2 separate regions of the Homo sapiens genome follow, and region 1 is linked to region 2. Evidence: fine-mapped expression QTL. A gene starts in region 2. The other region holds a variant in brackets. All regions are shown on one strand. Distances are from middle to middle.

What was found. PIP is the estimated chance that this variant, and not a neighbour inherited with it, causes the effect.
Region 1: its variant is the best candidate, but not a certain one, in a credible set for the expression of PBX3 in unexposed skin (GTEx, PIP 0.62).

The regions. Positions count from the first base shown.
Region 1 is chr9:125,715,234-125,725,369 of GRCh38, forward strand. No RefSeq gene overlaps it. Among named protein-coding and RNA genes, the nearest start is that of MAPKAP1, 13 kb to the left of the region's middle. The variant T/C (reference allele first, on the strand shown) is at 6,115.
Region 2 is chr9:125,742,355-125,752,593 of GRCh38, forward strand. It overlaps PBX3 (PBX homeobox 3), which reads left to right and starts at 5,019. Exons shown (of 9, transcript NM_006195.6): 1 at 5,019-5,299; 2 at 6,196-6,269. The coding sequence starts at 5,100. It overlaps PBX3-DT (PBX3 divergent transcript), which reads right to left and starts at 3,575. Exons shown (of 2, transcript NR_122032.1): 1 at 3,062-3,575; 2 at 1,400-1,583. RefSeq lists silencers at 4,114-4,543, 4,794-4,843, 4,854-5,383, 5,654-5,993.

The sequences.
Region 1 (10,136 bases), 27 kb before region 2:
ACTGTGAGTGCCAGCCCCTAAATTAATTGATGTTAACAGTACTTAGAACGTAAAAAACAGACTCGTATGTTTTGTCGAATGCAACTTCCAAGAATGTATAATTAACAGTGTCTCCATTAATATACAGTATGTTCAACAGTGAGACACCACTATCATAAATAAAGGTAGACATGGATAAATTTATAATTAAAAATGCATTAGAAATTACAAGCATAATTTATTTACTAATGTGCACTGGAATAAATTTTATGTGTAATATTTTAAAACTGGGCATTAATAAATAATAGTGAACATAAAATGTTTTTGTAGCTAAAATATTTCAATAAATATTAGTAACTTAAATGTGCAGCAGTTATAATTGCTCTGAAGTAAAGTTTATAGAATGCAATCCCAATGTAGAACACTGTTTCTTGGGTGTATTCAAAATATCAGAAATGCATAGCTGTCCTTCTTCAAAGCTGACAAATCAGGTATTCAACGTAGTGCCTACAATGATTGAAGAATAAAAGCACAGGACACCCAAATAGTGAATAACTAATCATTATTTGAGATAACCAAGACCCTTCCGAGAAAGTGTATTTACAGACTCGTGGATTCAAATCTTACCTACCTGCTTGGCCTACACTAATTTGGAGCAATTTCTCCCACCTGAAAACTCCTATGGGTCTTTTTGAACCTTTCACTTAAAAATTGGTTTTACCTGCTGGGCATAGTGGCTCACACCTGTAATCTCAGAACTTTGGGAGGCCAAGGAGGGCAGATCACTTGAGGTCAGGAGTTCGAAGTCAGCCTAGCCAACATGGTGAAACCCCGTCTCTACTAAAAATACAAAAATTAGCCAGGCATGGAGATGCACGCCTGTGGTCCCAGCTGCTCAGGAGGCTGAGGCAGGAGAATTGCTTGAACCTGAGAGGCGGAAGTTGCAGTAAACCAAGATCAGGCCACTGAACTCCAGCCTGGGTGACAGAGGGATACTCCATCTCAAAAAAAAAAAAGCCGGGCGCGGTGGCTCATGCCTGTAATCTCAGCACTTTGGGAGGCTGAGGCAGGTGGATCACAAGGTCAGGAGATCGAGACCATCCTGGCTAACACAGTGAAACCCCATCTCTACTAAAAATACAAAAAATTAGCCAGGCGTGGTGGCGGGCGCCTGTAGTCCCAGCTACTCCAGAGGCTGAGGCAGGAGAATGGCGTGAACCCGGGAGGCAGAGCTTGCAGTGAGCTGGGCGACAGAGTGAGACTCCATCTCAAAAAATAAAAAAATAAAAAATTTACCTTACCTTGACTGTGCTTTTGTTCTATCAGGGGCAAACAACTCCAAGATGCCAAGCACTATTCTAAGTGCTCATATATTTTATTGACGCCATGCTCTTGACCACTTCACTCTATTAGCTCCACTATTTAAAATATTCTATTTATTGAACTTTCTGAGCGTTCACATCATGTGTCCTTAGTGAGCTATAAGTCCTACAACACACAGGAATACCGTATTTGTTCATTTGATGTGCCTGAAAAGGGAGCTTGTGTCTACATGTAAGGTAGGTTTTCCCAGGTAAGACTGTAGCTGATTAACAGTAATGAATGGCGTCCATTATTGGTTGAGCCTTACTTTGGGCCAGGCCTGGCCTAATGGCTTTGTACCCCTAGTCTTATTTAATCCTCATAACAATCCAATAGATAGATGTTATTATTATCCCTATTTAACAAATGAGGAAACTGAGCATCAGAAAGGTGAAGTCACTTGCTCAAGATCATACAACTAGTAACTGGCTGACTTGGAAGCCCCAAGCGCCACACTTCCCACAATGATAATGAGCAGCCCTTGTTGTGAAAATAACCATGTCCTTTCACTACATCATGTTGCCTTCCAGCATCTCACGATCCTTTCTGCTGGGATTTTCCCCCCATTGATATCTAATCTAAGTCCCTCCTGCTCCCATTTAAGATAATTCCCTCATGTCCTGTCCTTAGTAGACAAGAACTGATGTTTAAAACACATGAGCAATATCCCTTTAGATATTTGAAGATGGCTATTAAATTCTCCTTAACCTTCTTTTCTCCATGATACGTTATTAGTAACCCCAATTCCTTTTGCCTTTTCTCACAGGGACTTTTTTTTTTTTTTTTTTTTGAGATGGAGTTTCGCTGTTGTTGCCCAGGCTGGAGTGCAATGGTGAGATCTCAGCTCACCACAACCTCCGCCTCCCGGGTTCAAGCGATTCTCCTGCCTCAGCCTCCCAAGTAGCTGGAATTACAGGCACACATCACCACGCTGGCTAATTTTGTTTTAGTAGAGACGGGGTTTCACCATGTTGGCCATGGCTGGTCTCGAACTCCTGACCTCAGGTGATCTGCCTGCCTCAGGCCTCCCAAAGTGCTGGGATTACAGGCATGAGCACCGTACCAGGCCCCACAGGGACTCTTTCTAAAGCATTCCACCCTCTGAGCCATGCTCCTAGAAAGAGGTTTCAGGTTTTCCAAATCTCAATTTATTATCATCACCTTCAAAGAGTATTTATTAAGCACCCATATAGGCATGTGAACTGTGCTAGAATTTATACAAGCCAGGAAAGCAGATGTTGCCCTGGATCTAAGAGGATATTTGAGGCCAGGCGCAATGGCTCATGCCTGTAATCCCAGCACTTTGGGACGCCAAGGTGGTCAGATTACCTGAGGTCAGGAGTTTGAGACCAGCTGGACCAACATGGTGAAACCCCGTCTCTACTAAAAATACAAAATTAGCCAGGCGTGGTGGTGCATGCCTGTAATCCCAGCTATTTGGGAGGCTGAGGCAGGAGAATCACTTGAACCAGGGAGGCAGAAGTTGCAGTGAGCCAAGATTGCGCCATTGCACTCCAGCCTAGGCAATAGAGTGAGACTCCGTCTAAAAAAAAAAAGAAGAAAGAAAGAATACTGCCTCTGAAATGAGTTTAAGCGAAACTAGTACCTAGAACAATTAATAAATACTAGCTCAGAAGTAATATACAACTAAACTAAACAAACAAAAAAAACAAGTAGTCTGAAGGCTGAAGACACAGTCTTGGCCTGCTTAGAGCTTTTCTGCTTTTCTTGAAAAATTGGAAAGATTAGCGACATTGTGTCTGCAGCCCCCTTGTCAACAATCAGGCTACCTGGTTGTTGTGATGACTGGTGGATGTAATGAAGGCCAGGTGGCAGCCGCTACACATCATGACACTTGGGCTGTGGCTTTTGTCATACCTGGCCTGCAGCACTCATTTGCTTGACCTGACAGGCCTTACAGGTACTTGAGTTTGAGCCCCTGGTCTGGCTTTAGGAAACAGCCTAAGAATGAATTTCTGCCTTTGCATAGCAGAGGTATTGGTGGGGAGAGGGTATAGTTAAGGAGAAAGTCTCAAAACCCTCTTCACCTGGGAGAACCTGTTATTCTCCTCAAACCCAAGTACAATTTCCTGCATAATCTGGAGATTATGCTAGAGAAAGAGGCTCTAGAAAATAAAGAGTGGCCGGGTGCGGTGGGTCACACCTGTAATCCCAGCACTTTGGGAGGCCGAGGTGGGCGGATCACGAGGTCAGGAGATTGAGACCATCCAGGCTAATACAGTGAAACCCCATCTCTACTAAAAATACAAAACACTGGCTGGGCGTCGTGACACGCCTCTGTAGGCCCAGCTACTAGGGAGGTTGAGGCAGCAGAATTGCTTGAACCCAGGAGGCAGAGGTTGCAGTGAGCCGAGATCACACCACTGCACTCCAGCCTGGGCGACAGAGCAAGACTCCATCTCAAAATAAATAAATAAATAAATAAATAAATAAATAAATAAAATTAATAAAGAGGAGTGGAGCTGCAAATTGTTCATCTTTGTATTTCCCAGTTATTTGACAAAATCTCGGCACAAAGTGTTGCTTTGAATGAAAGAAGCTAATTCTGGCTTCAGCTCATTTGTGACTTCGGTGGTCAGAGTCACACCTCTTCTCTGTGTCTCGGTTTTCCCATTTATGGAGTGGAATGGTTTTCCCATTTATAGACTCTACCTGGGCAGAATCATATGATGCCATTTTTTGAGTGACAAAATGTTGTATGTATGTATGGTACAAAAGATGTAAATCTGCCTCTCAAAGATGTCTGTAGATTTTGGCCGGGCGCCATGGCTCACGCCTGTAATCCCAACAATTTGGGAGGCGGATCACCTGAGGTCAGGAGTTCGACACCAACCTGGCCAATATGGTGAAACTTGCTCTTTACTAAAATGTAAAGAACTTAGCTGGGTGTGGTGGTGGGTGCCTATAATCCCAGCTACTCAGGAGGCTGAGGTAAGAGAATCACTTGAACCCCAGAAGCAGAGGTTGCAGTGAGCAGCGATCCTGCCACTGCACTCCAGCCTGGACAACAGAGGGAGACACTATCTTAAAAAAAAAAAAAAAAGAAAGAAAGAAAGAAAGGAAAGAAAAAAGTCTAGATTTTAACATTCTTTCTTCAAGAAGTACATAAGTTTTTTTTTTTTTTTTGGTTTTTTTTGAGACAGAGTCTCGCCATTGCCCAGGCTAGAGTGCAGTGGTGCGATCTCGGCTCACTGTAACCTCCGCCTCCTCGTTCAAGCGATTCTCCTGCCTCAGCCTCCCAAGTAGCCGGAACCACAGGCAGGCACATGCCGCCACAACCAGCTACTTTTTGTATTTTTGGTAGAGATGGGTTTTCGCCGTGTTGGCCAAGCTGGTCTCAAACTCTTGACCTCAAGTGATCTGCCAGCATCAGCTTCCCAAAGTGCTGGGATTATAGGTTTGAGCCACCTCGCCAGGACCATAAGTTGCATTTGTTGTTGTTGTTGAGACAGGGTCTCACTCTGTCACCCAGGCTGGAATGCAATGGCGCAATCTCCGCTCACTGCGACCTCCGCCTCCCGGGTTCAAGCGATTCTCATGCCTCAGCCTTCCGCGTAGCTGGGATTACAGGCATGAGCCCCCCCACCCAGCTAATTTTTGTATTTTTAGTAGAGACGGGGTTTCACCATGTTGGCCAGGCTGGTCTCAAACTCCTGACCTCAAGTGAGCTGGCTGCCTTGGCCTCCCAAAGTTCTGGAATTACAGGCGTGAGCCACCATGGCTGCCTGGCCGCATAAGTTTTTGAAGTACAAATTTTTCCTTCAGATTCCACAATAGCGATTTTTAATTAATAACTTTTCATTTTGAATTAAAAATGTAGTATTTAGACATTTTCCGTTTTCCTGAATGTGTAATCCTAAAAAAATAAATTCACTCACCATGAGTGTACACCTATTGCCAAGATCCTGTGTTTTTTTTAATACCATTCTCCAGTAAAAACAAAACAAAACAAACAAACAAACAAAGCACCAGGCGCAGTGGCTCACATCTGTAATCCTAACACTTTGGGAAGCCAGCCGAGGTGGGAAGATCACTTGAGTCCAGGAGTTCTAGACCTGCCTGGGCAACATAGTGAGACCATGTCTCTACAGAATAATTTTAAAATTAGCTGGGTATAGTGGTGCACACCTGTTGTCCCAGCTACTTAGGAGCCTGAGGTAGGAGAATCGCTTAGGCCTGAAAGATTGAGGTTGCAGTGAGCTGTGATGGCACCACTGCACTCCAGCCCGGGCAACAGAGCAAGATTCTGTCTCAAAAAATAACTACAAACAAACAACATAAATATAAAGCTGAAGTCCTCCTTGAGTGTTCCTGTATACCTGCAGTTCCTCCCTGGGGTTAATCTCTGGAGTTGTTTGTGAATGTCCGCAGGCAAGCCTGGCTAATTTTTTTGTAGAGATGGGGGTCTTACTATGTTGCCCAAGCTGGTCTCCAATTCCTGGACTCAAGTGATCCTCTTGCCTCAGCCTCCTAAAGTTTTGGGTTTACAGGCATGAGCCAAAGTGCCTGGCTATGAAATATTTTTTGAAAAATATTTCAGGCTGGGTGTGGTGGCTCATGCCTGTAATCCCAGCACTTTGGGAGGCTGAGGCGGGAAGATTGCTTCAGGCCAGGAGTTCGAGACCATCCTAGCCAACATGGTGAAACCCCATCTCTAATAAAAATACAATAATTAGCCAGGTGTGGTGGCAGGCGTCTGTACTCTCAGCTGCTCAGGAGGCTGAGGCATGAGAATCGCTTGAACCCGGGAGG[T/C]AGAGGTTGCAGTGAGTCAAGATCATGCCACTGCATTCCAGTCTGGGTGACAGAGTGAGACTCTGTCTTGAGAAAAAAAAAATAATGAAATTGGCCAGGCATGATGGCTCAAGCCTGTAATCCCAGCGCTTTGGGAGGCCGAGGCGGGCAGATCACGAGGTCAGAAGTTTGACATCAGCCTGGCCAGCATGGTAAAACCCCATCTCTACTAAAAACACAAAAAATTAGCTGGGCCTGGTGGCACGCGCCTGTAGTCCCAGCTACTCAGGAGGCTGAGGCAGGAGACTTGCTTGAACCCAGGAAGCAGTGAGAATTGTTTGAACTCCAGCCTGGGTGACAGAGCAAGACTCTGTCTCAAAAATAATAATAATAATAATGAAATTTTAAAATATAATAAAAAATAAAAAATATTTCAAAGAGAACATAATCAATATTGTTTGTATAATCAGAAAAATAGATAAGAAAATAAACAAATATTTAAAATGAAAATCCATTGCTCCCTATCAGTCACAGAAACATTAATTGTAACAAATGTACCCCCCACTGACCAAGACCCCAGACTTTGAGCCCTGAGCTCCCCTTCCCAGGGCCAGCAGTATAGCCTGTTCCCTTCTTTTGGTTGGGTCTCAGCTGGTCATGGCTTTGCTCCTTCCTCTTCATCCGTTGCCCTAAAGACGTCTCTCAGGATGCTCTTCATGGGTGATGTGAAGGACAAGATATGGAAGCTTCATTCAGGACCCGATAAAAATTTACAATTAGCTACCCCAATTTTTTTTGAGACGGTCAAGCCTCACCCATCCCCATTTTATTATATTTTATTTTTATTTATTTATTTATTTTTGAGACAGGGTCTCGCTCTGTCATCCAGGCTAGAGCACAGTGGTGTGATCTGGGCTTACTGCAACTTCCACTTCCTGGGTTCAAGCGATTCTCTGCCTCAGCCTCCCAAGTAGCTGGAACTACAGGCACGAGCCACCACGCCCGGCTAATTTTTGTGGTTTTAGTAGAGACGGGGTTTCACCATGTTGGCCAGGCTAGTCTCAAACTCCTGATCTCAGGTGATCCACCCTCCTCGGCCTCCCAAAGTTCTGGGATTACAGGCGTGAACCACTGTGCCCAGCCGCTACCCCAATTTTTAAAATATTTACCTTCCCCTACTTTCCTGTCCCAAGGGGTTGTCAAGCATTTCTGACCCGGAATGGTGATGATAATGTTGGCCATTGTTTATTTATTCAACAACTCGGTTTTTTTTTGTTTTTTTTTTTTTTTTTTTTTTTTTTTGAGACGGAGTCTCGCTCTGTCGCCCAGGCTGGAGTGCAGTGGCAAGATCTCTGCTCACTGCAAGCTCTGCCTCCCGGGTTCACGCCATTCTCCTGCCTCAGCCTCCTGAGTAGCTGGGCCTACAGGCACCCACCACCACGCCCGGCTAATTTTTTTTTTGTATTTTTAGTAGAGACGGGATTTCACCATGTTCACCAGGTTGGTCTCGATCTCCTGACCTCGTGATCCACCCACCTCAGCCCCACAAAGTACTGGGATTACAGGCGTGAGCCACCGCGCCCGGCTTCTCAACAACTCGATTTATTGAGCACCTGCCCAGGCACTGTGTCAAGATGCTAGGGATAGAATCAGTGAACAAAACAGACAAAAGATTCTCCCTTCAAGGAGTTTAAATTCTAATGGAAGGAGAATGACAATATTGAAAATATTTATAAGTAATCCCTCAGATCGCATAAGAGTGATATTTAGCTATGGAGAAAATAAAGCAGAGAAGAGGGACAAGAAGTGCTGGGTTGAGATTCAATTTTAAGTAGATGGGATGATGGGGGTGGCTCACTGACTGGTAGTGTTTGAGCAGAAATGTAGTTATTTGAAGAATTATAAGACCTTAGTGAAGTACTTTGTAAGTATGATGTCTTTAAAACTACCCTACCAGCATAGGCAACATAGGGAGATAGTCTTTATACACACACACACACACAACCTAGCTGGGCATGGTGGCACGCGCGTGTGGTCCTAGCTACTTGAGAGACTAAGGTAGGAGGATTGCTTGGGCCTGGGAGGTCGGGGTTGCAACCATGATTACACCACTGTACTCCAGCCTGGGTGACAGAGCAAGACCCTGTCTCAGAAATAAATAAATAAACAAAAATTAAATAATTTTAAAATCGCCCTAAGACATAAATATTCTAATTTTATGGTAGTCCCATTTCACAGATGAGAAAACTGAACTTTGCAGTAGAGCAGCAATCTGCCCAAATTCGCAAATGGGAAGGGCCCAGCTGGGTTTGAACCCTTTGAGGGTGGGATCTTAACCACAACTCTGTTCTATAATAGTTTAACCTATTTTCCAATCTCTGATGTGCTGTCGGTTTGGATCCTGTGGCCCCACTCTTTTAGGCACTTGAGGCAGACTGGTCTTTTCCTGCTATAGGCTCTTCTCCGTGTTTTCCTCCTGCCTTCTGACAAGCTCCTTCGAATGACAGCTTCCCATGTTGGACTTACTCTTGTGGCTTCCCCCCTGCCCTCCAAAGTCACACATAAAAAATCCTGCCGTGGACTGATCCTCATAATAGCCTGTTCTTCTCCTTCTCCCTGGTGGGGATGAGAGTGGGAGAACCAGACAATTCAGCTGTGACAACCCAGGAACAATTCCGTTTAATTTTTTGACCCGCATTGGGAAAAAGCCAGTTGATTCTCTTAACGGGCAAGGTCATTGAAAACTAAAAAAGCCCTAACTCGTTTAATGTTCATTTTTCCATGTTATCAATTCTGGGTAAAACAATAGTCATGCTGTCCATTGCAAATTACCTTTCAGGAGCCAGAAGTCCGCATGGAAGGAGCATGCTGCTTAGAGGACAAAGGAAACAATGCCTGCAGAGGACATTCTGGAAGGGAGAGGGAAATAAAGAATTAGAACTTCACGGCCAGGCGTGGTGGCTCACACCTGTAATCCCAGCACTTTGGGAAGCCAAGGTGAGCAGATCACTTGAGGTCGCGAGTTTGAGACCAGCCTGGCAAACATGGTGAAACCCTGTCTCTACTAAAAATACCAAAATAAGCTGGGCGTGGTGGCAGGCCCCTGTAATCCCAGCCACTCAGAAGACTGAGGCACGAGAATCACTTGAACCCAGGCGGCAGTGGTTGCAGTGAGCAGAGATCGCACCATTGGACTCCAGCCTGGGCGACGGAGTGAGACTCTCTCAAACAACAACAACAGACCCTTCACAACCACCAAGGAAAAGGTGTGGTTTGGATTTGCTGCATACAATGTGCCATAAAATCAGAAAAGAACTTTACTACCCGACTTAGAATTTCTCCCTTATGTTTATGGAACACATGTTTTGCACACGCCACCTCTTTTAATGCTAACACTAAGAAACAGTTACTGTCATGGCACCCACTTCAGAGATGAAGAACTGAGGCTTAGGGAAGTGAAGGGTATTTTTAGGCCAGTCACAGTGGCTCACGCCTGTAATACCAGCACTTTGGGAGGCCAAGGCAGGTGGATCACCTGAAGTCAAGAGTTCGAGACCAGCCTGACAGACATAGCAAAACCCTGTCTCTACTAAAAATACAAAATTAGCCGGGCATGGTGGTGCACACCTGTAATCCCAGCTACTCAGGAGGCTGAGGCAGGAGAATCACTTCAACCTGGGAGGAGGAAGTTGCGGTGAGCTGAAATCATGCCATTGCACTCCAGCCTGGGTGATAGAACAAGACTCCATCTCAAAAAAAAAAAAAAAAAAAGAGAAGTTAAGGATATTATTGAAGATCACTTGCAGAGTGGACATGTAAACTCAGGTCTGACCAAAGCTCTGACTTTTAATCAAGATGCCCTGTCTGTCCCATAAGAAGACCTTGAAAACACACTGGTGAGTAAGAAGGTTAAACAGCAAAAAGTTGTGCTAATCACTGCATATATTAAACATTCCCTGGAAATACCAACTTTCCTGAGTGGAAATATTCACCTTGCCCCTCCCACTTTTAGGGTATTTTAAAAAATACTCAGAGATCACCTG
Region 2 (10,239 bases):
TCCATACAAAAAAAATACAAAAAATTAGCTGGGTGTAGTGGTGTGCACCTGCAGTCTCAGCTACTCAGGAGCCCTGAGGCAGGAGGATTGCCCAGGAATTCAAAGTTACAGTGAGCTATGATCGCGCCACTGTACTCCAGCCTGGGTGACAGAGCAAGTCCCACTCTCTAGAGAAACAAATCAATGAACAAACAAATAAACAAATAGATAGTCATTCCTAAAGCAATGGAGCAATGATACATTTTGAAAAGAAGCATTTAGTCAGTTTCCCCAAAGTGACAAGTTGGAGAGTGTTACCTTTTCTTAGATGTCTATGATTTAAAAAAAAATCAAATCTGTCATATTATAGTCACATCTTACGACACCTTGCCCTTGACATTTTTATGACCTAGATGAGGAAACTAACAGAGGTGGATGGAGAACAAACAGTGCAAGACTATCTAGTATGGTAGTAGGTTATGTATTACAGGCAACATATACTGAGGGAGTTTATTTATTTATTTATTTATTTATTTATTTATTTATGAGACAGAGTCTCACTCTGTTGCCCAGGCTGGAGTGTAATGAGGCGATCTCACTGCAATCTTCTGAGGGAGTTTAGAGGAGACAAAGATCAGAGAAGACAGGCATCACAGAAAAGCTTCGGAGAGGTGGGACCCAATGTGGCTTTGAAGAATGGTCTGACTGTCCTTAATTTCCCTCCTCCCCTGCCTTGAGACCTGGATTCCTCTAATATAGCTGTTTATTCTCTCTTTATTAAGCACCTAGTTACTTATTTTCATTAATTTTTCAGTTTATCTGTTAAGGTCTTGTGATTTTTACTTCATAATCTTAAATAACTTTTAAAAAAATTTTAGGAGAAATGGTAGCACTACTTTGCTCAAGCTAGAGTGCAGTGGCTATTCACAAGTGTGATCATAGCATACTGCAGCCTCAAACTACTGCACTCAAGTGATTCTCCTGTTTCTGCCTCTAAAGTAGCTGGAACTACAGTTGCATGTCACCAGCCTGGCTAAATTACTTTTTTGCACAGTGTTTTATACGGTAGTCTTTGCAGCCACATAGATCAATATTTGAATTCAAGCTCTAGTACTTACTGGCTTTGTGGTCTTGTGGAAATTTCTTACTCTCTCTCATTCTATTTCTTATTTAATAACAATCCCAAGCAGGCTGTTGTGAGACTGTAATAAGATGAAGCAAGGGAACACAGAGGATAGTGTACCCCCAAAGAAAGTGCTCAATAATGGCATCTGCTGTGATAGTCACCCTATTGATGACAGAGGCAATGGTGATGTTAATATAAACTCATGGAAAGGGATGGCCATGAAGGAACATCTGCTTGGTTTTCACCACTTTGTCACTGTTAACTTTACATGAATGTCTGCTCACCAAAAGTCAATTTCATTTCCCTTGACATTTTAATAATCACTACCTTAGAAACAGCAAAGACAGACTCGGGTACTCAGGGAACTTCTGTTCTGTCATCTGTGAAGGCATCAACCTTGTGACTCAGATTCTTGAGCAGAGATCACGCAACATTCTACATGAGACACTGGCACGAGCACCAAGAGATCCTGGAACATCTGCAATTAGTTGACAGTTATATTGAGGCTTGGAAACCAGTCTAAAAAAGTTATGCTTTAAATCAACGGCAGTTGTCAATGAGCCTGTGAAGGAATCCTTGCTAGGGTCCTCAGGCTTCTACTGCAACTCATACTGATAACAACAAAAAGAGAAGCCTCCCAAGCAGAAGGTCAGTCTAATTCAATCACTTAAGGCAGAATTATGGTATCAAGTTTCCACATCACTGAATGACCATGGGTGTAGAGGAGTGTACCATAAAATAACTGTGGGTGTTAGACATTTAACAAGTTGTTTTATTCCTAATTGCTGGCATTTGCCTAACTGTTTTCTTAATTCTAATTTATGTTTTTATGTTCCAGTGTGTTTACACAGCCCATAGTTCCCAATTGCCTTTATTTGCTTAAGTGTTTCTTTATTTACTTTTTTTTTTTTTTTTTGAAAAGAAGTCTCACTCTGTCGCCCAGGCTGGAGGGGAGTGGCACAATCTCAGTTCACCGCAACCTCCACCTCCTGGGTACAAGTGATTCTCCTGCCTCAGCCTCCTGAGTAGCTGGGATTACAGGCGCCTGCCACCAAGCCCAGCTAATTTTTTGTATTTTTAGTAGAGATGGGGTTTCACCATGTTGGCCAGGCTGGTCTCAACTCCTGACCTTGTGATCCACCTGCCTCGGCCTCCCAAAGTTCTGAGATTACAGGCATGAGCCACCGGCCTATTTACATTTTTATATATGTTGCTTTGCTTACATAACTCATTGTTCGGAGTGGGCTAGAAATAACCATAAATCCCCATTGCTAATTAGCCTCATCCTCATGACTGATTAGTCAAGATTATGAGTCTAGAAGGAGGGCAGAGAGGAGTCCTAATAGTGAGTCACAGGATTATTGAATTTTACAGCTGGAAGGAATCTTAGAATTTAAGGCATCTTTCAGTTAGAATTCTGTGGTTTTGCATCCTCAGCGTTGGAGAATTATGAAAGGTTGACCGCTTGCTCCTGCGCCTTTTGGCAAAAATGCTTAAGAATTTGGTGACAGCTTTAAAAAACAAATTAAGAATAAAGAAAAAACCCAATCAATGACGATTATAAGTAACCCATAATGGGGGCTTCAAAGAAGAATTGGAAACTTGACATATCAATGGGGTATAGAAGAGCAGAGAATATTAATGAACATGAAGGGGGTTCTTCTTTGGAGGTAAGTAAGCAGAGTGGATTTTTTGGAACTCCCTCCTCAGCAGCTGTGCAGTTTGTAAGGATTTTAGCTTGCCTAACTGTAAGCTTAGCTATTAGCTTTGCAGTGGGGAGTATTTAAAAGTACACACAACATATGAAGGAAAGAACCTGGAACCGAGTAGCCTGCTTCATTCCAAGAATCCATCTGGCATTTAAAGAACTGCTTGTCCTACATTAAACCCTGCAGAGTAAGAGCCATTTTTCATATCCTCATACCCCTATTTTTGGTTTCAGGTAAGACAGCTTACTGAGTTTGGAGAAGGAACAAAGAGACTTTTCCGAACCACCGAACCAAAGGACTCATCTAGGGTGAGCTCAATGAATCTAAAATCGGGAACACACATTGCAGCCCCTGTTTGGGAAATCAGCTTAAGAGCAATCTCAAGTCTCCACAAGAGGCGGAGGTCCATATTCCAAAATAATGTGAGCCTTCAGTTATTTGTAGGTAGAATTCAATGGAAGAAGGGGTGTTATAGATACGAAAAATCGTGGCTGGCGTTACCAACATTAAATGACTCGTGGTGATGGGGTAAGTTGACAAGTGAAATCCAGTCTCTTCCTAAACAAACGTATCTTTGTAATGAAGAGCTCGTTTTTGCAGCTTCAGTACATCTGGAGGCATCGAATAGCAAACGCTGCCAAAGGAGTAGTCCCTGGATTATCAGGAGTTGCAGAGTGTGTAAAGTGTTGTAAACCTTGAAATTAGTCCTGGACTGAAGGCACTTTCCCTCCTCCCAGACTCGCTTCTCTCTGACACATTTCCCCTTTCAATGGAAAGTCTATGGCAGTCAGGTCCACTCAGCTCAGACTTCAAGTATGTGAGACCACAGGTTCCCACCTTAACTGGTCACCCATTGAGGGACAGCACAAGACCCCGGTGCTGGCGCCAACGCTGAGCTGCGCCCTCTCGGTTACCATGGCGACCGCAGGCGGGGCGAGGCCCCCACTCGCCGCTTCCCCGCCTCTGCCCAGAACCTTTCGAACGCTCCAATTGGGACGACCCTTTCTTGCCTCTGTCCCGCCCCATTCGGCTCTAAGCGCTTTGCGATTGGCCCGGGACGAGCGGCCTGGTACCCAGAGGGCACCACCTCCTGACAGGAAGAGCGGGAAAGTGCACCAGGAGCTGTCCGAGGCGTGAAGCTCACGGGCGCGGCGGGGGAGCACACGGTTGGCTTTGCAGCGAGTTGCCCACTGTCCCATACACAACCCCCCGCTCCCATGACTGCCAAAAGCATGGAGCAGGAGTCGGGGTGCGGGCACACCGTTTGTGGGCCGGCCCGGTCTATCCCGGGGGGCTAGGACGCGACGAGGTTGGAGCGAGGATCCGGCGGCACACTCCGGAGCGCGGAGTATCAGAGGCCAGAGGGAACGGGCCGGGCCCCGGGGGCGGTGCCGGCGGCGGCGGCGGGAGGCGCAGAGCCCAATGAGCGCGCGCACCGCCCCGGGGGCGGGGTCTGAGGAGCGCTCCCCCGCCCTTGCCAGCCCCCGTCCCTCCCCCCGGCGCGGGGCCGCAGTGAGTGAGTGGCACTGGCAGCCTGTCAATCCCTCGGCCCAGCGGCCTTCCAGCCCGGTCCGCGGCGGCTGCTGGCTGGGTGCGCGGCTCCGGCGGCGGCGGCGGCGACTTCTCCCGCCCTATCCATCGGCTGTCCGCCCGGCGCGCGGCCCGCCGGGGCCCTCCTCCGGGCTCAGCGCCCCCGCCGCCTCTGCCCGCCCGCTCCCAAACTTTCCTCCTCCGCCCCCCCTCGCTCCCCGCGGCCCGCCCGCAGGCCTCCTCCTCCGCCGCCGCCCGCCGCCGCCGCCGCTGCCTCCCCCGGGGCCGCCGGGGCTCGGATCCCGCCTGGCCGAGGCGGCGGCGGCGGCCGAGGAGGGCAGTGCGCAGGCTGGCGCGGGGGGCGGCGGGCGTCCCGGCAACTCGGCGGGCGCTGAGGAGCAAGTTGCGCGGGGCCGCCCGGCGGGGCGCGCGGCGGCGAGGAGGCGGCGCGGCGGCCGCGTGAGGGCAGCGGGCGCCGCCGCCTCCGCCTCCGCCACCGCCGCGGAGCCCGGCGCTTCCGCCCGCCGCTTCTCCTCAGCCTCGGCGGCGGCGGAAGCCGGAGCCGGGCGCCCGTCCTCATCGCCTCAGCCGCGGGCCCTGCCGGCCGGGCCGCCCCCTCCCCGCGCGGGCGGGGAGCGCGCGGCCGCCTCCCCCTCCCCCTCCCCCTCTTTCTTCTCCTCCCTCGTCGCCGCCGCCGCCGCCGCCGCCTCAGCCTTCGCCTCAGCCGCCGCCCGCTCCCGCCCGCGCGCGGCGGGATGGACGATCAATCCAGGATGCTGCAGACTCTGGCCGGGGTGAACCTGGCTGGCCACTCGGTGCAGGGGGGCATGGCCCTGCCGCCTCCCCCGCACGGCCACGAAGGGGCGGACGGCGACGGCAGGAAGCAGGACATCGGCGACATCCTCCACCAGATCATGACCATCACCGACCAGAGCTTGGACGAGGCGCAAGCAAAGTTGGTGTCGTCTCATTAAGCATCTTTTGTGTGTGTGCGGGAGCCGGGCCCGCGGCCGAGTCGAGGCCCGGGGTGGCGCCCGGGGCTAGGGCCGCAGCCCCCGGCGGGGAACTTTCTCCGAAAGCCGGCCGCCCGCCCCGGCCTCGGGGGGACTTGCCCGCGCCCCCCGAAGCGGGCGGGAGTCGGCAAAGTTGCTCTGGGGGGCTCGGGACGGACTCGGTGCGGCGCGGATTCCGTGGCGTCCTTTCCCCCGTCCTGCCCCTCGCAGCCCGGCCCCCTCCCAGGGATTTAAACCTCCCGCCCCGACCCCGTGCGGGCCGCGCCGCCGGGAAGTGTAACTTTCTCCTCCGGCGGGGAGTCCCGGCGCCGGCTCCCGCGGCCGCGGGACGACCTCGCGATGCGGGCGGCCACCCGGGCCCGGCGCGGGGCGATGGGCGGTTCCCTGGCGGGTCCGGGTGCGGACGGCCAAGTTCTCGGAGAGGGAGGGCCGCCTTGCAAACTTTGCCGAGCTGTCACCCTCCCGCTGGCCGCAGTCGGCCGGCCTCCTCTGCACAGGAGCGGACGCGGGAGCCCCTCCGCACCCGTCCCCTCCCCCGGGTCGCCTTCGCCTGCCCCCGGGGCGAGGCTCCCCGCGCGGGTTCGCGTCGCGTCTGCAGTGGCCGAGGCTGCTGCCTGCCGGGCAGATGGGTCCGCCTTGTTCCGGCTGCAGCTTTCGCCGCCGGGGCTTGCTGGCTGTCGGGAACTAGTCAACTGGAGTTTTTGTTGACTTCCCACGGTTCAAAAGGGCCTTCCAGAATGGGGGGCTGGAATTAAATCTTGGGTCTAACTTAAAGGAAGGCGCCATATTATTCCATAGGTGATGCTAATACCTTTGTGTTTCGTTATTTGTTTTTTAGGAAACATGCCCTGAACTGTCACAGAATGAAACCAGCGCTCTTCAGCGTCCTGTGTGAGATCAAAGAGAAAACAGGTAAGACGCTGCGCCCCGCAGTGGGCCTGGAGACCCCCGAGGTGGGGGTCGGAGCTACTCCTTCGACTCTCCAGTTGAGAGCTGCTGCTTTTGGGCACCGCCATCTTTGATCATTCTCTCCTTCCCACGTCCTGATCTTGAGAAAAAACTGCAATAAATCTGGAGTCAATTTCTCAGTTCTGCTCCTGGTGTAAAATGAAGTGTAGGTGCGGACCGGGCTGGATCGCCGTCCCTCGGCGGCCGCCCCTGGCTGCAGGCGGGGAGGGGGCCCGGAGCGCCAGCCGCCCTCTTCCCTCTCCTTTCGCCTTGTTTGTGTGTCAGTTTTTAAAAGGAGCAACGGGAGACTGGATGCCAGGACCGAGTCCCCGGGAGAAGCATCGCCCGAACTTTGTTTTACTTAGACAGTCTTAAGCTTCAGCTGCACGGATAGAAGAATAGATGCAATTGAACAGACCCCAGTAGCATGCTTGAATTAGTGTTTTAGGTGGGAAGGCTACTTTAGAGAATCGAGGAAGGGTAATGATGTGTAGACACATACGATGTATTACATCTGTTAATACTTGTATTATTTTGTATTCTGAAGTCATTACACTTGTAACTGTGCTTAATATATAAAGTATAAAAAGGTCTACAGATGCAGGTTAAACAATTTTGAAGTGTCCAAGTCAGGGAATATATAAGAAGATAGGTTTTGCAGAAGTGCTGGAATGAAAACTACAGGTACATATTTGGCAAATTTTTGGCAATTCGTTTCAGTTTAACTTTCTTGTCAGACTTTATTAATTGAAGGTCTTTCAGTCTTGACGTGAGGTAACTGCTCAAACTGAAGCAGAGATTTGGATGTTTTAGTTTGTATTTGGCATTATCTTCCCTGTATGTGGCAAACAAGTACATTAAACAAGCTCTACTGTTTATTTTTTTCCTGTTCTTTTCTTTCTTTTTTTTTTTTTTTTTGGTGTGTGTTGGATGTATGGTATTTTAAAGTTGCCATTTTGAAAGTTGAGGCAAAGGAGAAAAAGTTGAAGTCCAGGATATAGCACTATCCAAGGGAGGCTATTTAGAAGGTTACATGTGATTGTGTTTAAATTGAGTGTACAAATAGCACAGTGCAAATAATTGTTAGGTTGATAGGCGAGTCAGCCTTCTTTGAAACAGGTTTTTCGCTTTGCAATACTATTCTGATCCTAAAAGTAATCAAGAAAAGATGATGAGTTATTGCTGTCTATTAAATATATATGCTAAACCATAATAAGCAGCAAATAATAAGGGAGGCCAAAGAGTACTTTTCCTGGTTTTCATTCACATATTATGGCTGGTTTCTTAATGCTCAGTGATCCTTTCTTGAATTACTAACTTTTATTTTGTGTTGATTTTTAGCTACCTTTAGAAAGCGTTTTGATTTAAAGCAGTAGATAATTTTTATCTGACTGTAAAATAAGACATCTAGCATTCAGTCTTGAAGATTCTTAGTTTAGAAGCTTAAAAGTATGCAATTCTCAGTAAATTCTGATGCTTAGTGTCCAAGGGTTTTCCTGCTATCAGGGCTCCACTTCAGTTTCTGCTGACAGCCAAGCACTGGGGTATTGACTATGTTGTGAATATTAAGATTGATTCGACTTTATACAGCCTTATATTACTAGGGAGAGGGGATGGATACTTATCGCTTCTCATCCCCTTCTCATTATTTGTATTTATTTATTTATTTTTGCCTTTTTAAAGTTTTGGCCTAGCTAGCTTGAGAACTAAACCCAGCAAACTGCTTTTCATGTTGAGACATTTAGCAGCAGGCAGAATTCAATTAGGAAGCATAAGTCCTTTAGTTGCTTATTTGCACAGGACTTAGTTACACCATTCTGAAAGGAAAGTATAGTCAACCACATGTCAAAGGTGAGTTACGAAAAAGAAACAAATCTTTTCAAAGTCTGGGATTACTGGCAGAGAGAGCTTTGGTAGGGCTATTGCTATTTAAAAACCAAGAGGCAGCTGACAAAAGAAATTTTTGTGTTTTAAAATTGTTTCTGGGGCTTTCAGTGATAACTTGTAAATTAGATTCTCTTTTTGTGCTTTGGCCAGTGGATCCACATTTGCACGTTATCTCTTTTGTAAAAAGCCAACAGCCGACAAAGAGTAAAGGCGGCTGTCTGGGTAGAGGCATCTTCCTGCTAGCCTCTCTAAGCTCGAGAGGGATGGGATTTAAGTACTGAGTGATTGATGGGGGTGAAGCTCTTTCTCTTCTTTCCATTCTCCCCTACTACCCATAGCTTCACCTCACTCTCCAAAACTAGTCTTAGAATGAGACAGGGACTCAGAATCCTCAATTCGAAATAAAACAGCTGTGTAGACATTAGTGTTACCAAAGCAAAGAAAGCGGGGCTGCAAATTCCAAGCCCCCCCACTCCTGCTTCCATAGTCGGTCATGCTTTAGAAACATGAACTTATAAAAGAAACATTGTAGAATATATGTATATTGCATAAATATTTTTTAAAAATCATTTTATTTAATCTAATAATACCTAAAAATTAATTCTTTGTAATTTAGAGAAAGTTTACCTAGTCATTTATGAATAGAAACCAGAAACATTATGTTGATGACTCTATTCTGCTTAATGAAGGGGGTTGAGGGTGAACTGTCATTTCAGTGGATAATGTCATTTCAGTTGTGCTTTTCTTCTAAAACAAAACAAAATCATTTTAAAAAAAATCTGTTTATTTGTAGCTCTGCCAGTGGATTTTGAGGTTTCTGATCAGGCAGTGAACACTGCCAGTTCTTATGCACATGGGGGATTTAGTTTAGAAAACATCTGTTTCCCCCTCTACCATATATGAAAAGGTATTTTTCCCTTCTGACAGATAAATGGGTAATCTACTACAATTATATTATTTTCTTGTTGAGAGGTAAGGAAAGTATACTTCTACTATAAGATGCTGCTTTTTCTTGAGAATATATTCTTTCGTAAAATTGATCATACCATTATTTTTGGGCAGAAATGTCTCTCATTGTTGAATTGTGATATTTGTGCATTTTGAGAGCACCCAAAAAGTTGTAGGCTTTAAAATAAAAATAGTTGTTTATTTTAAACCAAGTAACCAGTGAGATTATTGTTGATATGTTAAGATTTTTCTCCTGATTTTTAAAGCCATATTTTATCATCTGTCTCTTATTAAATATCCCTGATGCCACAAGGTCTGCTCACCTGCATACCTCTTTTGGTGTATGCCCCCACCTCTTTTTGGTCATCTTAATCTTAATTGTTGAAGTGCTTTCCTTTGTGAAATATTTCATCCTGAAAAATCTTGTCTTCTTTCCAAAGCCCTTAATTGTGCGAGTTTAAGTGAAGGAAATAGTTCTTTTTCAAGAAAAAAATATTTATTTTTTAAATGAAATCCCACATTTTAGTAGATAATATGAATCACATTATTGTGAAAAATGTTATGCATGAAAAAAAATAAACACAACCTTTTCCTTTTCAAATAATAGGTTAAAATACTCCATGTTGATGGCTGCCAACCAAACTCTGATTTATTGCCACCACAAACCCTAAATAGCGTTCATTTACTAGTAATGTCTAATGGCATACATGATGGTTTGCCAGATTTGTAGCCTTTGTGAGGCTTATAAGTAGGACTGACTTGGGAAGATCATAAAACTTAATGAACTTCTCTACTGCAGGAGGTGTCCGCAGGGGAAGAGAAAGGCCTGCTTGGTTGGTTGGGCTGGTTGAAGTATTTTTTATGTTTAAGGAGAAGAAAATGACTAGTAAAAATGCCTTACTTTTAAAGGAACCCTCCCTAGAAAGAGTCATAAGAATTTTAGATATTAAAACTAGATCAAGAGTATAGTTTACAAGTGAGGTTTTATGTGCATTTAGTATATGATGTGAGATTAAACCTTTTATCTTTATTGCTAGAAGTGTGACTAGCTTTCAAAGAGACAAGGCAGTACTGTCATTCGACACCTCTCTATTTAATT